Linked DNA regions of Homo sapiens. The protein of the gene in region 1 interacts with the protein of each later gene in a biochemical or structural test. Each region holds a gene or a part of one and is shown on either strand. Other genes may lie near its edges.

Region 1 (7,035 bases):
GCCTCAGTGCCAGGTAAGGACAGCCACCTTCCTGGGAAGAAGAGGTGACCCCGGGTCTGGTGGATTTCCCACAGGGGCCGTCAGAGGATGTCCACAGAGGCAGAGCCCTTGGGGCCTGTGGGCTGGGTTGGGCTGGTGGATGTGGGGCCTGGGACTTCTCCAGAAGCTTACTTCCTGCTGCATGCTTTGCCGACTGTCCTTCCACCTCTAAGTGTCCATCGTGCCTGTGGGGGCTGCTGCAGGCTCCTGCTCCGTCAGCCCACCTGCTGCTGCGCTGCTCTGGGAGCGAGCTCCCTCATGGCATCTGGAACGCTCTCCTGTCCTCCCTGTGCTCAGGGCTGGAGAGAGGGTGGCGGGGCTGCGGGCTCCCCGGGCCTTCTGGGCCCAGCCCTGCCACCTGGGCCCACCTCCTCTCACTGTCTCTGGCTCACGCTTCCCGGGCCTGGAGCTGGGACCTGCCCATAGGCATCTGAAGACACGTCAGCCTCAGCCGGGGGGAGCCCTTGCTTGACGCTCTCTGGCCTCCGGGCTGCCTCTCGCGCCCGCTCTGGGCCCGCTCTTCTTCTCATGATGTCTTTCCTTTCACCTCCTGCGTTGTCTGACATCGTCGCTCTCTTCATAAATTGTAGCGTTTTATGTTTTCGTTCATAGGAGTGTTTTATTTGATTTTTCTTTATTTTAAATTATTACATTTAAGTTCTTTTTATTTTATGCTCTAGGTTTTGAAGTTTTTCTAATTTCTTAATTTTTTTGTTGTTTTTTGTTTTGTTTTGTTTTTGTTTTTATGTACTGTATTTTCAGTGTTTTAACCAAACAGTTGTGGCTACTCATGGTGAGGAATGACCGCTAAGAGTTTGGGTTCTTTCAGTGCATTTGGAGGTCACTGCTACACGTTGATGTTTAGGAGGTTGAGAGGTTTGCCTTTAGGTAAGTTGTGGCCAGGGGGAGTGTCCCATGGGTAAGTGGTGGCCCTGTAGGGTGACGGAGAGCTAGGGGAGGCGCAATCAGACTGCAGAATTCCCCGCAGCCACCATGAGGGTCAGGAGCAGGCCGGGGACCCAGCGTGGAGGAAGGTGGCCCAGAAGCGTTTGTCTGATGTGCACAGCTACACCCTGCCTGGCCACATGGGGTTCCCTGTTTTCTCTCTGCCGGGTGGTGGCAGAGTCGGTGAGACACCAGGTGCCTGTGACACATTGGGTAGACAGGTTCTTTGAGAACGTCAGCACAGACTTCTTGCATGAGCGGTACTCGCTTCCTCCAGCGTGGGGAGTGACATGAAGAGCAAGGGTTTTCCTTTCAAACTGGGCATAGCTGCAGAGCCACAGGCCGTCTCAGACATTTCTACAAAGCCACTCCGGGAGGCGGGCTGCGCCCGTGTGAGGGCTCTCCCTCGGCACTGCTCATCTTTTGGGGCTGGACATGCATGGCCTGGGCCGCTGGGACGCGGTGGGTGTGGAGCAGCATCCCTGGCTTCCACCCACGAAAGCCAGGAGCACCCCCTTCATTTGTGACCACAAAAATGTCTCTGGACTTTGCAAGCATCCCCTCGGGGCAGTCAGCCCAACTGAGAATAGCTACTATAGAGGAAGGTGTGTCATTTTGAGATTCCTTCTAGAGAAACTTAGGAGCCTGGTAGATGAAGCAGAAATGTGTCCTCTGAGTGAGTGGCCGTGTCCGGTACTGAGAGGCCCCGTGCCCTGAGTCTGGCGGTGACCAGAGAGGCTGGGCAGAGGCAGAGGTCAGCACTGGCCATGACTTCTGGAAGTCCCGTCTGCCCTGGTCACTTAAAGGCCAGTATAAGTCAGCTGTGGAGAGGGCTGGATACCCCCTCGACAGCTCCTCCCTGGGTGAGATCCTTAGCATTAGAGTCCCCCACGGTGCGCCCTCTGAGAGACCACGGGAACCCACCCAGCGGCTGCCTGGGACAGGCACAGGAGCCACCTGGGTGCCTCTGAGGCCTTGCACTTTCCCACACCTCAAGGAGGGCCGGGGGCCACGGGCAAGCTCTGCCATAGCGGGTGATCAGGTCAGCTAAGACGAGAACGTTTGGGGCTCTTTTTCTCCAGCTGGTTCAGTATCTTTGTTAGGAAAGACCATTGGAAAGAATGTTTGTTTCGCATTCCGCATTAGTCACATAGAATGCGCTCCTCCCTAGCGAGCTTCCTGAGGTAGACGGCTGGTTGCGGTTTCTCGTAATCCGGGCTGCCCCCACCCTCCAGAATGTCTTGGTGGCGTCCCTTTCTGTGAGCAGGGATTGTGGTTTCTTTGCGCTTGCTCATGTTCAGGGGTGAGCTCTGGTCCAGTCAAGCCACAGGGTCAGCACCTTCTGGTCACTCCCTGGCCCTGACCTGAGCCCGGGGAGGAACGTGGGGCAGGCGCGGGTGGGCCCAGCCTCGAGCTCTTCAGCACAGTGATGGTGACGGGGCAGCGGTGGCGGCACAGCCAGCCCTTCTTGGGTCCCCAGTCAGAGCCCTCTGCCCTACCTGGGCTGGACTTGTTTCTGAACAGCCACAAGCTACAGGGGGCTGCCGCTGTGTCCCTGGCGAGGCACTGGCCCATTACAAGCAATCGTCTGGGGAGGGCACCAGTGGAAAGCCCCGTTCCAAGCCATTTCAGGAGGGTGGCCCTGCTTCCGAGGAGCCGGAGTCAGTGGCCGGATAAGCAGAGCCACTCGGGAGTGGTGAGGCCCGGAAGGGTTAGCCCGGTGGGCGGCAGAGGAGCTCTGGCCCGCAGGGTGTCGGGCGAGGCAAAGTGCAAAGCATTGGTGCGCGGGGCCTCAGGCAGCCACGGCGGAGCCGCAGGCCAGGGACCTGCAGTGACTCGCTCTCCCTCCTCCCTGTGTTTGGCCTTAGTGTCCACAGGATGAAATGTCCGAGTCAGGCCAGTCCTCGGCGGCCGCCACACCCAGCACCACAGGCACCAAGTCCAACACGCCCACATCCTCCGTGCCCTCGGCCGCCGTCACACCCCTCAACGAGAGCCTGCAGCCCCTGGGGGACTATGGCGTGGGCTCCAAGAACAGCAAGCGTGCCCGGGAGAAGCGCGACAGCCGCAACATGGAAGTACAGGTCACCCAGGAGATGCGCAACGTCAGTATAGGTGGGTGCCCACCTCCGGGACTCTGGGCTCCCTCGGGCAGGAGGCAGGGCTTGGTTTGGGTAGATGTGAAACTAATGCACCAGGCGGGCAGTGCAGGCAGCAGAGACGTGTTCCTCACAGCCCGGAGGCTGGGGTCCAAGATCAAGGCGCTGGCAGGGTAGGTTCCTCCTGCGGCCACTCCTTGGCTTGTAGACACCACCTTCTCCCTGTGTCCTCAACAGGCATCCCCTGGGTGTGTCTGTGTCCTCATCTCCAGCTCCTACAAGGACATAGCCCCATTGGATTAGAGCCACCACGTGACCTCATTTTACCATAATCACCTCTTGAAAGGCCCAGCCTCCAAATACAGTCATGCTAGGGGGTATCTATTAACATATGGATTTGGGGAGACACAACTAAGGCAGTAGCCTGCGTCACCCCACGGCACACAGCCCCACTAACCAGTAACCTGCATCGCCCCACGGCACACAGCCCCACTAACCAGTAACCTGCATCGCCCCACGGCACACAGCCCCACTAACCAGTAACCTGCATCGCCCCACGGCACACAGTCCCACTAACCAGTAGCCTACGTCACCCCATGGCACACAGCCCCACTAACCAGTAACCTGCGTTGCCCCACGGCACACAGGCCAGTGAGGGAAAGAGAAGAGGGGAATGAGGGCCGAGAGGAGGTCCAGCCACTGGCTTGCTTGGACGTGGGATCTCTGGGGACTGGGCTTACTGCTGACACTCCCATGCAGAGAGGCTGCTGCAACCCACCCCGCTCCAGGCCCCGCCTCAGACGTCTACTGTGCTGGGGTTCGACCTCTGCCCAGTCAGCCTGGGAAGAGCTGTTTTCTGATCATCCCCACCTAGCAGGTGGTCCAGCTCCAGCCCACCAGACTCAGGTTCCGAGGGCAGCCGTGAGCAGGGCAGAGGCTGCCAGACCCTCTCCTGACCCCAGGTGCCCCTGTGCTCTCCCCTAGGCATGGGCAGCAGTGACGAGTGGTCTGATGTTCAAGACATTATTGACTCCACGCCAGAGCTGGACATGTGTCCAGAGACCCGCCTGGACCGCACAGGAAGCAGGTACTGGCTCAGCCCAGGCCCTGGGGTCCTGGGGGCTCAGTATTTATCCAAGTCGGTGTCTTTGGTGAAGTCTTCCTCTGCCACCACTGGGAGAACCATCAAGGCTGTGGCCTACCGCCTCCATCCACGACCGGCCTGCAGGGCAGTGTGGGCATTGAATGGCCACGGTGGGAGGTGTTGGAAGAGTCTGCAGACGCAGCCACTCCGGGCTGCCCACTGACTCTGCTCTCTCTCCCGACCTGTGGATCCCAACAGCCCAACCCAGGGCATCGTGAACAAAGCTTTCGGCATCAACACCGACTCCCTGTACCATGAGCTGTCGACGGCAGGGTCTGAGGTCATCGGGGATGTGGACGAAGGGGCCGACCTCCTAGGTAAGCGCAAGCCTTCCCCCGCACCGCTGTGCCTGCACAATGCTGGGGCTTTCTGCTGTTGGTTTTGTTTGTAATGAAAGGAAAGTCCTCTGTCAGCTGTGAGCTAGGAACCTTTTTTTTTCCAGCTTTGTTGAGTTGCGTTTCACATGGAATTGTCCCTCCATCTCCACAGGGGATTGGTTTCTGGACTGCCCCAAGGATGCCAAAATCTGAGGCTTCTCAAGTCCCTGCTCTGAAGTGGTGTAGTGTTTGCACCCTCCCGTGTACTCTAAATCACCTCTAGGTTATGTTGTAGATGCTGTGTAAGTAGTTGCTGTTATGCTGTGTCGTTTAGGGAATAATGACAGGAAAAAAGTGTACACGTCAGTACAGACACGGCCACCACAGGCCTGTACATTTTCTGTGAGGCTGGTTGAATCCACACATGCAGAACTCGTGGGTATTGAGGGTCGACTGTATCATAAAATTCACCCGCTTCGAGTGCACGGTGCGGTGGGTTACAGCGTACTCACAGGTGGGGCAGCCACCCCCATGATCTCAGTTTAGAATGTTCCGCCATCCCTAAAAGAAATCCATGCCTGTTAGCCTCGCCCCATCTTCTGCACACACCCTCAGGGCTGCCAACTCTCCAGGAGGTTGGGAGGGTGCCCGCTTCTCTGCTCTGTGCCCATTAGCCTCGCCGCACACCCTAGGACCATTGACTTTGGAGGAGGTTGGGAGGGTGCCCACTTGCCCACTCCTCCGCAGACAGCCCTGGCTTCACCTCAGCGCCACAGGTCTACACCGGACCCCTGTGCCTAGGTCTGTGGCGGCTGCAAACATCAGGACCTGCTTCCTGTCAGCACGTGGAGTCTCCTGTGCTCATGGCATCTGCTGGCAGCTGAGCACTGGCCATGTGGCTCTGAGCCCCAGGCTTTCAGGCATGACAGGCGGGCAGTAGGACAGCGCAGTCTGTCCCCTTGCACGCGTCAGGGTCCGAGCCTTTCGCCATGGCCTTGCTTCCCCCAGCCCGCAGGGTGAGAAGCTCCTGGATCCCAGGCTGCCTCCTGGTGTACTCCTGAGCTGATTGTCTTATCTGGGGCAGGGGGACCTCCAGGGAGCAGAGTAATGTGGGGTGCTGAGCACCAGCAGGGCCTCACCCTGACAGGGAGGCCTGTCTCATCCTGGCTTGAGTCAGAAAGTGCCCCAGTAGAGGCCATGTATGAGTAACATAATATTCACCATGTTAACCGAGTTGAAGTGTTCAGTTCAGTAGTGTTGGACACACTGTACTTGGTGGTGAAAGATGGAATGCTCCCCGAGATCAGGACGGCGGTGAGGGCGCACTTTGGTGCTGTGAATTTTCTGTGGAACTTTTCTCATGTGTTGCAAAAATATATATAAAAAATCCAAAGGAGATTAATCTTCAGAAAAATCCTGCTAAATAGGGGTAATCTCTTTTAATATTTTGCTATCCTTCCACTCTACATAATTCAGATAATGTTTATTTATTTATTTATTTATTTATTTCTTAGACAAAGTCCCGCTCTGTCGCCAGGCTGGAATGCAGTGGCGCCATCTTGGCTCACTGCAACCTCCGCCTCCCAGGTTCAAGCAATTCTCCTGTCTCCGCCTCCCAAGTAGCTGGAATTAGAGGCACGCGCCACCACGCCCGGCTAATTTTTGTATTTTTAGTGCAGACGGGGTTTCACAATATTTGCCAGGCTGGTCTTGAACTCCTGACCTCCGGTGATCCACCCGCCTCAGGCTCCCAAAGTACTGGGATTACAAGTGTGAGCCACCATGCCCGGCCGATAATGTATATTTTTTAGCTATTTTTTTTATTTTTTGAAAAAATTATATATGCTTATAATAATATTTAAATAATATCAGCAAATGCCAAGAAGAGAGTAAAAACCAGAGGGAACCTCCCCACCATGCTATAATGATTTTTTTTTTTTTTGAGACGGAGTCCCACTTTGTGGGCCAGGCTGGAGTGCAGTGGTGCGATCTCGGCTCACTGCAACCTCTGCCTTCCCGGGTTGAAGCAATTCTCCTGCCTCAGCCTCGTGAGTAGCTGTGATTACAGGCATGCACCACCATGCCCAGGTAATTTTTGTATTTTTAGTAGAGATGGGGTTTCACAGTGTTGGTCAGGCTGGTTTTGATCTCCTGACCTTGTGATCCACCCGCCTCGGCCTCCCAGAGTGCTGGGATTACAGGCGTGAGCCACCACTCCTGGCCGATTGTTTTAATGTCTTGGTGACACCTACCAGACACCATGGCCCATGGCCCACAGAGGTATGACACATGTGTACGCAGAACACACAGTGTCAGGTCGCAGCTGCCCTTCTCATTGTGGGCGGTGTCATTTCCGTGGGTGGCAGCACTGACGGGCACGGCCACCGTCGGTCCTTACTGCAGCATCAAGCCGCCCTCCTGCCAGTGTCCCCATTTATAGATGAAGAAACTGAGGCCGGGCACAGTGGCTCATGCCCGTAATCCCAGCACT
Region 2 (7,035 bases), on another chromosome or scaffold:
GGCTGGGATTACAGGCATGAGCCACTGCGCCCAGCCACATCTTTTAAATCAAAACATTTAGTTGGCCCCTAACCTAGAGGAGATGTGAGGGAGGATTTTGGTAAGCCTTTTGAAATAGCATGCTGTCAACTAAACTGTGTTCTCCCCAAATTCCTATGTTAAAGCCCTAACCCCCAGTGTAATGGTATTTAGAGATGAAACCTTTGGGAGGTGATCAGGATAAGATGAGCTCGAAAGTGTGGGGCCCTCATGATGGGATTAGTGCCCTCATAAAAAGAGACACCAGAGAGCTTACTCCCTCTCTCTCTGTACCATATGAGAACACAAAGAGATGGCAGCAGTCTGCAAGCCAGAAAGAAGGCCCTCCCCAGAACCGGACCCTGCTGGTACCCTGATCTCGGACTTCCAGAACTATGAGAAAATAAATGTTAAGCCATCCAGCCCGTGGTATTTGTTACAGTAGCCCAAGCAGATGAAGACAGAGGGGAAATGCAGGTTTGCTGGTGCTACGCAAAAAACTGTTTCAGTAGTCTTAGGATGGGGATTCGAACGAGACACACAAATGTGCACCTCTCTAGTATTCTGATTATGTACATGAACATGTCTGGCATCATACAGGTATTTAAAAAACGTTAGTTCCAAATGCAATGTGGAACACTGGACTAGGTCCTAGCACAGAAAAGAGATACTAGTGGAAGGCCTGGTGACATCCAACCAAGTCTGTGTTTCAGTTAACAGTAAAGTGTTGATGTTAATATCTTAGTTCTGACCACTGTTCTATGATTATGGACGATCAGGGGAGACTGGGTTATGGGCACATCAATTTTCTTCTCTAACTTTTCAACTTTTCAATCAATTTAAAATTATTCCATTGGAAACTTGAGAGGAGGGTAAAATTTTTAAAATTAAAAATAAGTAAAATAAAATAATTCCAAAATTTAGAAATTTTCTTTAAAAAGAAGTTAACTGAAGCCGGTCGTGGTGGCTCACGCCTGTAATCCCAGCACTTTGGGAGGCCGAGGCGGGGGGATGACCTGAGGTCAGGAGTGGCCAACATGGTGAAACCCCATCTCTACTTAAAATACAAAAATTAGCCAGTCGTGGCGGTACGCACCTGTAATCCCAGCTACTTGGAAGGCTGAGAAGGGAGAATCGCTTGAACCCAGGAGGTGGAGGCTGCAGTGAGCCAAGATCGCGCCATTGCACTCCAGCCTGGGGTACAAAAGCGAGACTTCGTCTCAAAAAAAAAGTAAAAAAAAAAATAAAAAGAAGTTAACTGGCTGGGCGCAGTGGCTCACACCTGTAATCCCAGCACTTTGGGAGGCCGAGGCAGGCAGATCACAAGGTCAGGAGATCAAGACCATCCTGGCTAACGCAATGAAACCCTATCTCTACTAAAAATACAAAAAATTGGCCAGGCGTGGTGGCACACACCTGTAGTCCCAGCTACTCGGGAGGCTGAGGCAGGAGAATCGCTGGAGCCCGGGAGGTGGAGGTTGCAGTGAGCCAAGATCGTGCCACTGCACTCCAGCCTGGGTGACAGAGTGAGACTCCATCTCAAAAAAAAAAAAAAAAAAAGTTAACTGAATCAGAAATAAATGTTGAATGAAAAATAACTGAGACTAGGATAAACATCCAAATAGAGCCAACAGAGAAAGAAGGCTGGGCATGGTGGCTCCCACCTGGAATACCAGCACTTTGGGAGGCTGAGGTGGGCAGATCACTTGAGGCCAGGAGTTCAAGACCAGCCTGGCCAAAACAGTGAAACCTCATCTCTACTAAAAAAAAAAAAAAAAAAAAAAAAAACTTAGCTGGGCATGGTGTCACACACCTGTAATCCCAGCTACTCCAGAGGCTGAGGCAGGAGAATCACATGAACCCGGGAGATGGAGGTTGCAGTAAGCCAAGATTGTGCCATTGCACTCCAGCCTGAGTGACAGAGCGAGACTCCTTGTAAAAAAAAGAAGAAGAAGAAAACCAAGATCGTTTCTTCCCCTGCAGATACAGAAAGATAAGCTGGCAAGGGAAGCCAAGGGGAGGATGAGAGAGGCGGCAAGAGAGCCAGGTGGTGTCCAGAGGGCCAGGGGAGTTTCAAAGAGAATGGCAATGCCAAGAGCACCCACCCTAAGGGGCAGAGAGGTTGCCCAGAGTCCAAATTCAGACGGCCAGATTGGACCACTGCTAGACCAGCAGCTGATGGCATGGAAGCCAAGCTACAGAGGGGCAAGGAAGCTCCAGAGCCTAAGCTGGGGCAGACCTCGGGACAGACCTCGGGGCAGACCTTGTTGAAGGTAATGGTGTCTCTCTGGATTGTGGCTTATATTTACAAAACATTTTTGCATGTTCTAATGTTCTAATATGTTCTAATATGAAAAGAATATGGCAAACAGAACCTCTATGACTTTCCCAGTGACTCCATTTTAAACATTAGCACCACATTTGCTACAGAGCCACTCACGGATGGGGAAATGTCGTCATCATATTTTTTTAGCTGATTCATAAACTCCAGATGCTTCTTCTCCTCCTCCAGTTGAGCCACAGACTGCTCACTCTTCTGCAGTTTCTGCTGCGTGTTGGCCAGTTCATCCCGTAGCCACTGATTCTCCTGGCACAGACGACGAACCTGCGCACGCAGTTTCTGCTTCTCGGACTCCACAGCATTCAGGTGATTTGACAAAGCCATCATAACCTGAGCAGACAGAAACGTGTGCAGCACTGTGGCACGTTGTCCAGCAAGAGTCCCTCCCACCCGTGCGAACATTCTGTGGCTGGGGCTGTAGCTTACACTCGCAGATATTTTCTCCAAAGTACATATAAGTACAATCTGCCATTTACTTCTCTTTTCCCCTTCAGCCACAGACTACAAAGCAGGGTATGATAAAGAATATCACACGCTCAGAATGCCTACAAAAAAATACTTATTTTTTTGAAGAGCATGCCAAATGAACTAGCAATGAAAACACAGCTACCCTTCTGATGAAACTGTATTATTTTACTTTCTATCAAGATGGGCCCAACATAATTTTTTATAGACCCTTTCCCATGTGTAAGACCTCGTGTACACACATGCATGTCTGCGCACAGAGTGCATGTTGGTGAAGGGCTGCAAGTGGGGGTCAGAGAACAGTGCACATACAAATCTTCCTTGATGTTCCAAGGTGAGAGAAGACATCTCTGTAGCTACCACCAAGAGTAAGAATGCACTGGTGCACTCATAAGCTTATGTTTATGTCATAAAATCCAGGGGCCACTCCAGGGCTCTGCCTACAGAGTGCTCACTGGTTTCTGGAACAGACCAGCGTGAGGCTGTGGCAAGTTCCTAGGAGCATAAGAGCACAAACAGCTAGGAGCTGGCTGGCAGCAATCTGTTCTCTCTTTAGAACATACATCTGCCCATCCCTCTCATAACATAATAACCAGGTTATTATCCTCCTAGGTTTAAAACCTGAAACTCCAGAAGGTGGGACCTTTTCTTCCTTCTTTTTTTAAAACTCTTATCTGCGACACCAAAAAAGCAAGTTTAAATTCATGTCACCTGTTCTCAAGGTAACAGAACTTGAGAAATAATACGTTCACAATATCCAAACAGAGCTACAGTTCTGCAACTCAAGGCTGTAACATGGTTAGGATGAAGACTCTAAAATCAGGGTGTGGGCAGTCACTTCCTCTATGAAAGCAGAAACCGCTGGCCAGCAGCCCCTCTTCTGCTCTATTCACTCACTAAACTAGAGAATGCTAAGAAAGAAGCAAAGCTTTGGTATATTTAATTTTACCTAAGATATGCTGACAGAGCCAGAAGTTATCAGGAGAGAGTATTTAAAAACCTAGATGTTTCCAGTGTTTTCATCTCTATGTCAAGCATGATATTATAGAAACAAAGGTTAGTCAAAGATATGAAGCAATCTGGCCCTGGGATTGCAGAGACCATCACCCACTGGCCAGTGTCCATTCTCCTTCCTTAGGCTTAAGGACCTGCCACTGTAAGTGGGAAGACAACATTCCCCAGTCTCCCACTCACCCAGGTACAGCCATAAGGTCTGGCCAATGCAATGTAAGCACTGCTGTACACATCATCAAAGCAGCAGCCTTCAAGGAAGGAGGCACGTCCTTCCTTTCCCTTCCCCTATGCTAGAACAGGGCCACATGGAGCTCACTCTCAGTCCCCAAGACAGGCTGCCAAGGTGCAGTGTGGCAGATGTTAGGAACCTGAGTATCCCCGATGACTGTGTAGCTACAGAACCCGTCCAGGAGAGTGTACCTCAGTACTTATTTGACAAACATCTTGTGGTTTAAGCCACTGTTTTTGTTTTTTTGATACTGGCAGCCAAATCAAATCCTAAATGATACACAGCAGTATCCACTATTTTGGATCCGCTTTTCAAAATTCAGAGAGGCCCTGAGGTCAGGAGTTCAAGACCAGCCTGGCCAACATTTTAGTTTCTACTAAAAATACAAAAAATTAGCCAGGAATGGTGGTATGTGCCTGTAATCCCAGCTACTTGGGAGGCTGAGGCAGGAGAATCACTTGAACCCGGGGGACAGAGGTTGCAGTGATCTGAGATTGAGCCATTGCACTCCAGCCTGGGCGGCGAGAGCAAACACTGTCTCAAAAAAATAAAAATAAAAATAAAATTCAGAGGCCGGGCATGGTGGCTCGCGCCTGTAATCCCAACACTTTGCTGAGGCAGGTGGATCACGTGAGGTTGGGAGTTCAAGACCAGCCTAACCAACATGGAGAAACCCTGTCTCTACTAAAAATACAAAATTAGCCAGGTGTGGTGGCCCATGCCTGTAATCCCAGCTACTTGGGAGGCTGAGGCAGGAGAATCATTTGAGCCCAGGAGGCAGAGGATGCAGTGAGCCGAGACTGCATCACTGCACTCCAGCCTGGGCAGCAAGAGCAAAACTCCATCTCAATCAATCAATCAATACAATTCTGATAGGCCCAAATCAATAGTAATTTATTAACATACAGAACACATGATCTGTTTTGTTTTGTTTTTTCTTTGAGAAAAAGTCTCGCTCTGTCACCCAGGCTGGAGTGCAGTGATGCAATTTTGGCTCCCTGCAACCTCTGCCTCCCAGGTTCAAGTGATTCTCCTGCCTCAAGCCTGCCTAGTAGCTGGATTACACACGCCAGCCACCAGGCCCGGCTAATTTTTGTATTTTTAGTAGAGTCAGGGTTTCGCTATGTTGGCCAGGCTGGTCTCAAACTCCTGACCTCAAGTGATCCACCTGCCTCAGCCTCCCAAAGTGCTTGGATTACAGGCCTGAGCCACACCGCACTCGGCCTGGATCTGTTATTCTATAATCATCTTTCCTCTTCTTTAGTGAAACTGCTTATTTCAAACAAGTCTCCATTTTACCATCAAAAGTTCCTGATAACGTCTGAGTCATTCTCACTCGTACCTGTGCCTCACTCAGGCCGAGCTCCAACATCTCCAGTGACTTCCGGATCATGTTTGATTTCTCCTCCACCAAATTACTTTCATCATCTTTCTTCAAACACTTCAGTGTCTCCAGCAAACTTTGTAAAATGGAATTGTGCTCATTCTTCAAAGCTTCCAGCCCCTGAATTACTTGCTTTGTCTTAGAAATAATTTCATCCTGTGTAAGCTTCTCCAACTTGTCTTCCTTTATGTACACCATTGTGGACATGTTGTCATACATTCTGGAATGAAAAAAGAAAAAGAAATTAGATCCCTCATTACAGGTTTCATTTCTGTTACATCAAGTAAATATGAAAATTTTTTAATTAACATTTTATAGGGGAATAATAAATATGCACATTTGTAATTTATGACCTTGAAATACCATATTCTGCAGTTTCTGTTTTTCCTTTGCAGACACATTTAATTACTTTTCTGGTTTATGTCTTAATTCTTTTTTATGACAGCAACTGAAATTAATGCCAAAGATTAAAAGCAGCAAAACATCTAAATGGCATTTCCAAAACACATAGCCTCGGTGAACAACATTTTTTCTCAGAATGTTTGCAAGCCTTTTTCTCTTCCTAATGAAATGCAGGAAGAACACTACATTCTTGGTAAAATGTTTAACTGGACAAAGGCTTGAAAAGGAGTCACACAGCTGGAAGAAGAAAGAAAAACCAGCCAAAGAACATGGAACAGGAAGAGCAGCAGGGGAGGAGCAGACCTGGAAGACACAGGGCATCAAGGACAGGTGCAGCACGGTCACCGGGCAGGCTCACAGATGAGGATGGCACAGCGAAGCACCACCAGGGCCAGGCCCAGGGTGATGTGATGCAATGTCTGGAAGGGGCTTTCAAACACCAAAGTGAGAAAGAAAAGGGGGAGGAAAGGGGAATATAAAAACAGCATCATTTGTGCTGTTGTGCCTGACAGCCGCTGTCACTGAGCAATGGTTCCCTCTGCTAGCCTCTCTCCTTTTTTCTAAGTCTTAAAAACCCATAGTTAAGTTTAAAAAACAGAAAGATAGTGAGCAGTGATCTTTTTCGGCACAGTGACAGGGATGGAGGCAAGATTACACGTCAGAGTTATTTCCTTCACAGCACTGCCACTGTCTAAAATCTCACGATTCATTAAGTGTCTAATGTCACCTTGAATATAAGCTCTTATTTAAAAAGGCAGGACAGCCAGGCATGGTGGCTCATTCCTATAATTCCAGCACTTTGGGAGGCCAAGGCAGGCGGATCACTTGATGGCAGGAGTTCAAAACCAGCCGGCCAACACGGCGAAACCCTGTCTCAACTAAAAATACAAAAATTAGGTGAGTGTGCTGGCACACGCCTGTGGTCCCAGCTACTCAGGGGGCTGAGGCACGAGAATCACTTGAGCCCGGGAGGCAGAGGTTGCAGTGAGCCAAGATCTCACTACTGCACTCCAGCCTGGGTGACAGAGCGAGACTCTGCCTAAATAAATAAATAAAAATAAATGAAGTAAAATTAGCTGGGTGGTATGTGCAGGTATTCCTTGCTACCCAGGAGGCTCAGTGAGGCACAAGGATCGCTTGAGTCCAGGAATTTGAGGTGACAGTCAGCTATGATGGTACCTC
Region 3 (3,721 bases), on another chromosome or scaffold:
TGCCCACCGCTCTGTCTCCTGGCCGTCTGCTCCAGGCGCAGCTGGGGCTGAGGATGTCTCAAGAGGCCACCATGGCTTTGGCAAGGACTGGATTGGGGGGACATGGGACCTTACGCTTGTGGGGGTCTGCGGGCTGGGAACTCTCGTCCTCGGTCCCCAGGGCGCAGCTGTTGGGGCTGCGGGGGAGTGGAGCCCCCGTGCCCCTGCTTTTCCTCAGATCCGTTCTTTCTCTGTGTTGTCCTCCTCCTTCCCTTCCCAGTCTCCCTTTTCTCTCTCCTGGTGTCTCTGCCCCTCTCTGTGCCTGCAAACCTTATCCTCTATTCTTCACTTTGGGGTCAGAACTTCGGGGGTGTGGAGGAGGTGCGGCTCTAGGGACAGGTAATGTCGGCTTCCAAGTGATGCCCTCCTGCCACTCCCCTGCGATTTATAAGGGAATTTTAATTTTTATAGTGAATCTCAAGGGATCATCCCATCCTTGACCACAGGGACAAGAGGGGCCCCCTCGCCCCAGCCCCACCCCACATGGAGCTCAGGGGGAAGCAGGGAGGGGTTCCCAAAAGAGCCCTGCGGAGGCTAGGAGTGGTTCTTGATGCTCACCTGAAGCCCCTAGACGCTGCTAGGAGGGGGGGCCCTCCTGGGCCCCCAATACCCCTCCGCTTGCCGCTGCTAGCGCACCCCTGCAGTCCAGCGTGCATCCACCCCACGCACGCCCCGTGCTGTGTTCCTGGGCCCTGCCCATGGCCTCAATAAACTCTCTGCTTGGTGTGACATTGGCTGTTTCTAGAGGGTGCTAAGACATGGGGCCAGGTGCCCAGGGGCTGCCCATTGTGGTAGGGACAGAGTCCCCAGTGGCGGGAGTGTTGTGGCAATCTCACCCTTTTAGCTCTTTCCGAAATTGTGCCGGGGGTCCCTGCGGTGCTGCTCTGGGGCCTTATCTGAGGTGCCGTATCTAGAAGCACCCTTGGGAATTCTCCCTAGATACACTCGATTGGCCACAGAGGAATCCGAGGCTGTGCAATGGGGTGTCCTTTCCACGTGCACGGACTGGGGGCCAGCACGGCTCAGGTCAGTGTGTAGTGGGGGCATGAACTCCTTGAAGAACAATCTGGCCGGGCACGGTGGCTCACGCTTGTAATCCCAACACTTTGGGAGGCCGAGCCGGGGCGTATCACCTGAGGTCAGGAGTTTGAGACCAGCTTGGCCAACATGGTGAAACCCCATCTCCACAAAAAATACAAAAATTAGCTAGGTGTCCTGGCGCACACCTGTAATCCCAGCTACTCAGGAGGCTAAGGCATGAGAATCGCTTGAACCTGGGAGGCGGAGGTTGCAGTGAGCCAAGATTGCACCACTGCACTCCAGCCTGGGCGACAGAGGGAGACTCCGTCTCAGAAAAAGGAAAAGAAAAACAATCTACTTAGATCTTAAAATGGATATTTAAAAAATTCTCCAGAGAAAGCCAGAAGAAAATAGGTGACTTTTTCACTATGTGCTTAGGTGACTGCAGATGCCCGGCAATGTTCCCTCCCAGGCCCTCCTGGGTGAGCCCGCCTCCCAGGCAGGGGTCAGCATGGCCGGGGTCCCTCTGTCTGAGCCCAGGATTCGTGCAACACCAGGAAGACAACAGTTGAAGGTTCCTTAGTGAGCTAAGGGAAGTATACACAAACTTACTACATAAACATTAGAAAGTGCTGTCCGTAAAAAACACGTCTTCACAGAGCCAACAAGCAGAGAAATAGCTGCCCAGTGTTAGGAAGTGCATCATGATCCAGAGGTTCAGCCCGTGTGCAGCGCACAGACCTGAGGCCCCAGAGAGACCGAGGACGCAGACCAGTGGCACGACGGAAACGCAGAACGTTTATGAGAAAACTTTCCTACTAATTGAGATAAAGCTGTAAAGAGGCAGATAGCCCCACTGGGTGTGTACGTTTGAAACTTGTGCCCCCTGGGCTAGGGCATTCGGGGTGTGGCCCTCAGTCCCCTGTAGCTGCTGCCTGGAAACCGCTGCCACCCACCCACCTCCTCCCTCTGCTCTTCCACTCAGGTGAGAATTCTCCAAGCCCTGCCCTCCGGCGCCCCCGTCCCGCCCCTGCCCGGCCTGGCCCCGCCCCTGCCCGGCCCCGCCCCCCAACGTGTCTTCAGGTCTCTTTCCCTCCAGCCGGCCCTTAGGACGGCTGTTGGACGTGCTCGTGAGTCCTTCGCCTGTCTGCCTTCCACCTCTCTGCAGCTCCTTCTCCAATCTCATGGTCTTCTTGAGCTTGGCCGCCCTCCACGCCCCATGCTGGGCTTGGTCGGTTCTGGGGTCTACCTCTCTGGCTTCATCCCTCCCACAGTTTCGAGGGTTTCCCTGTGCTCAGGCCCCTGGCAGCCGCCCCCTGTGCAGACCACTGGGCAGATCCAGCTGACCTCCAGGGGCACTTCCTCGGCTCATCACTGGGCCGGTGCTCTGCAGAATGAGCTGTGAGAGCCACTGTGGCTGGCCAGAGGGTGCCACTCACAGTCACTTCAGACTCACAGGAGCCTTCGTCCCGACCCCTGCATTCATCTGTGTTCTGTTTTATGTTTTTTCCCAGTCACCTGAGCTGCAGGCCTTGGTCACCCCAGACTCCTCCCTCCTGTCACCCTTATCCTCACCCCAGCACCTTTACGTCTGCCCCAGGCTCCATTTCCCCCTCTTCTGCCTGGATCAAACCACCCTGACTTTCCTGGGTCTTCGTGCAACAGCCTGCTCCGGCCGCTGCCTCACTGCACCTGCAAATCCACTTGCACCCACACCCAGGCCAGGGTTTTTAAACAGAAGCCTCAGCAGATCCCTCTCTCTGGCCAGCTCCCTGTTGAACCAGGAAGCAGGTCCCTGTTGAACCTCAGCATGACCCGCCCCCACCCCTGCATCCCACTTCTGCTCTGGGAGCCTCTGGGTTCCTGGGCGCACCTGCTGCCCTTCCCTGTTTGTCACTGGGTGACCTCCCGTCCTTGTGGGCGCTCCCGGGCCCTGGTCTCGGGCCTTCTGAGGACTTGCTCTCCTGGTAGCGGCTGCTGACTGTGAGCCCAGAGAGCAGGCGTGGCTGTTGACCTTAGGTCCTCCCAGAACCTGGCGGATCGCCTGGCTCCCAGGCAGGAGGCGCTGCATGACGCCTCCAACTTCCGCCAATCTAGCCCAAGGATGGCGTTCTAAATAAAACGCGTTCTACAGAAAAGTGTTTATTGCATTCTTCTTTGAAATAATGTAAGCATAAAAGTAATCTGAATATTGACCAATAGGGTTAATTGATTAAGGTATATTTACCTAATTGAAATATTGGGTAGATGTGAAAAAAAGTTCCAATGTTTGTAATTACACAGAAAATTTCTGTTATGCTATTAAGTGGAAATAAATTTCTGGGCACAGCAGCTCATGCTACTGTGTAATCTTAGCAATTTGGGAGGCCAAGGTGGGCAGATCCCTTGAGTCTGGGAGTTCGAGACCAGCCTGAGCAACAAAGCGAAACCTCTATCTCTACAAAAAAAAAAAAAAAAAAATACAAAAATTATCTAGGTGTGGTGGCACACACCTGTAGTCCCAGTTACTTGGGTGGGTAAGGGAGGAGGATAGCTTGAGCCTAGGAGGTTGAGGCTGCAGTGAGCCATGATCATGCCACCACACTCTGGCTGGAAAGAGCAAGACCCTGTAACCACAATGAAAGAAAAGAAGAGAGAGAGAGAGAGAGAAAGAGAGAGAGAG

The links. The genes of interacting proteins can lie anywhere in the genome.
Region 2: the proteins of MAPK8IP3 (region 1) and KLC1 form a complex in vitro, tested with the Homo sapiens proteins (one study listed by BioGRID).
Region 3: the proteins of MAPK8IP3 (region 1) and MAPK8IP2 form a complex in vitro, tested with the Homo sapiens proteins (one study listed by BioGRID).

Annotation. Positions count from the first base shown.
Region 1 is NC_000016.10:1,744,177-1,751,211, forward strand, and holds part of MAPK8IP3 (C-Jun-amino-terminal kinase-interacting protein 3), read left to right. Parts: exon of another isoform or gene 1-2,413; coding exon of another isoform or gene 2,414-2,680; intron 2,681-2,852; coding exon 2,853-3,099; intron 3,100-4,067; coding exon 4,068-4,170; intron 4,171-4,425; coding exon 4,426-4,544; intron 4,545-7,035.
Region 2 is NC_000014.9:103,653,200-103,660,234, reverse strand, and holds part of KLC1 (kinesin light chain 1), read right to left. Parts: intron 5,672-7,035; 5' UTR 5,671-5,671; coding exon 5,410-5,670; intron 2,690-5,409; coding exon 2,459-2,689; intron 1-2,458. UniProt on the Homo sapiens protein: Kinesin is a microtubule-associated force-producing protein that may play a role in organelle transport. The light chain may function in coupling of cargo to the heavy chain or in the modulation of its ATPase activity.
Region 3 is NC_000022.11:50,610,782-50,614,502, forward strand, and holds the end of MAPK8IP2 (C-Jun-amino-terminal kinase-interacting protein 2), read left to right. Parts: 3' UTR 1-3,197; downstream 3,198-3,721. UniProt on the Homo sapiens protein: The JNK-interacting protein (JIP) group of scaffold proteins selectively mediates JNK signaling by aggregating specific components of the MAPK cascade to form a functional JNK signaling module.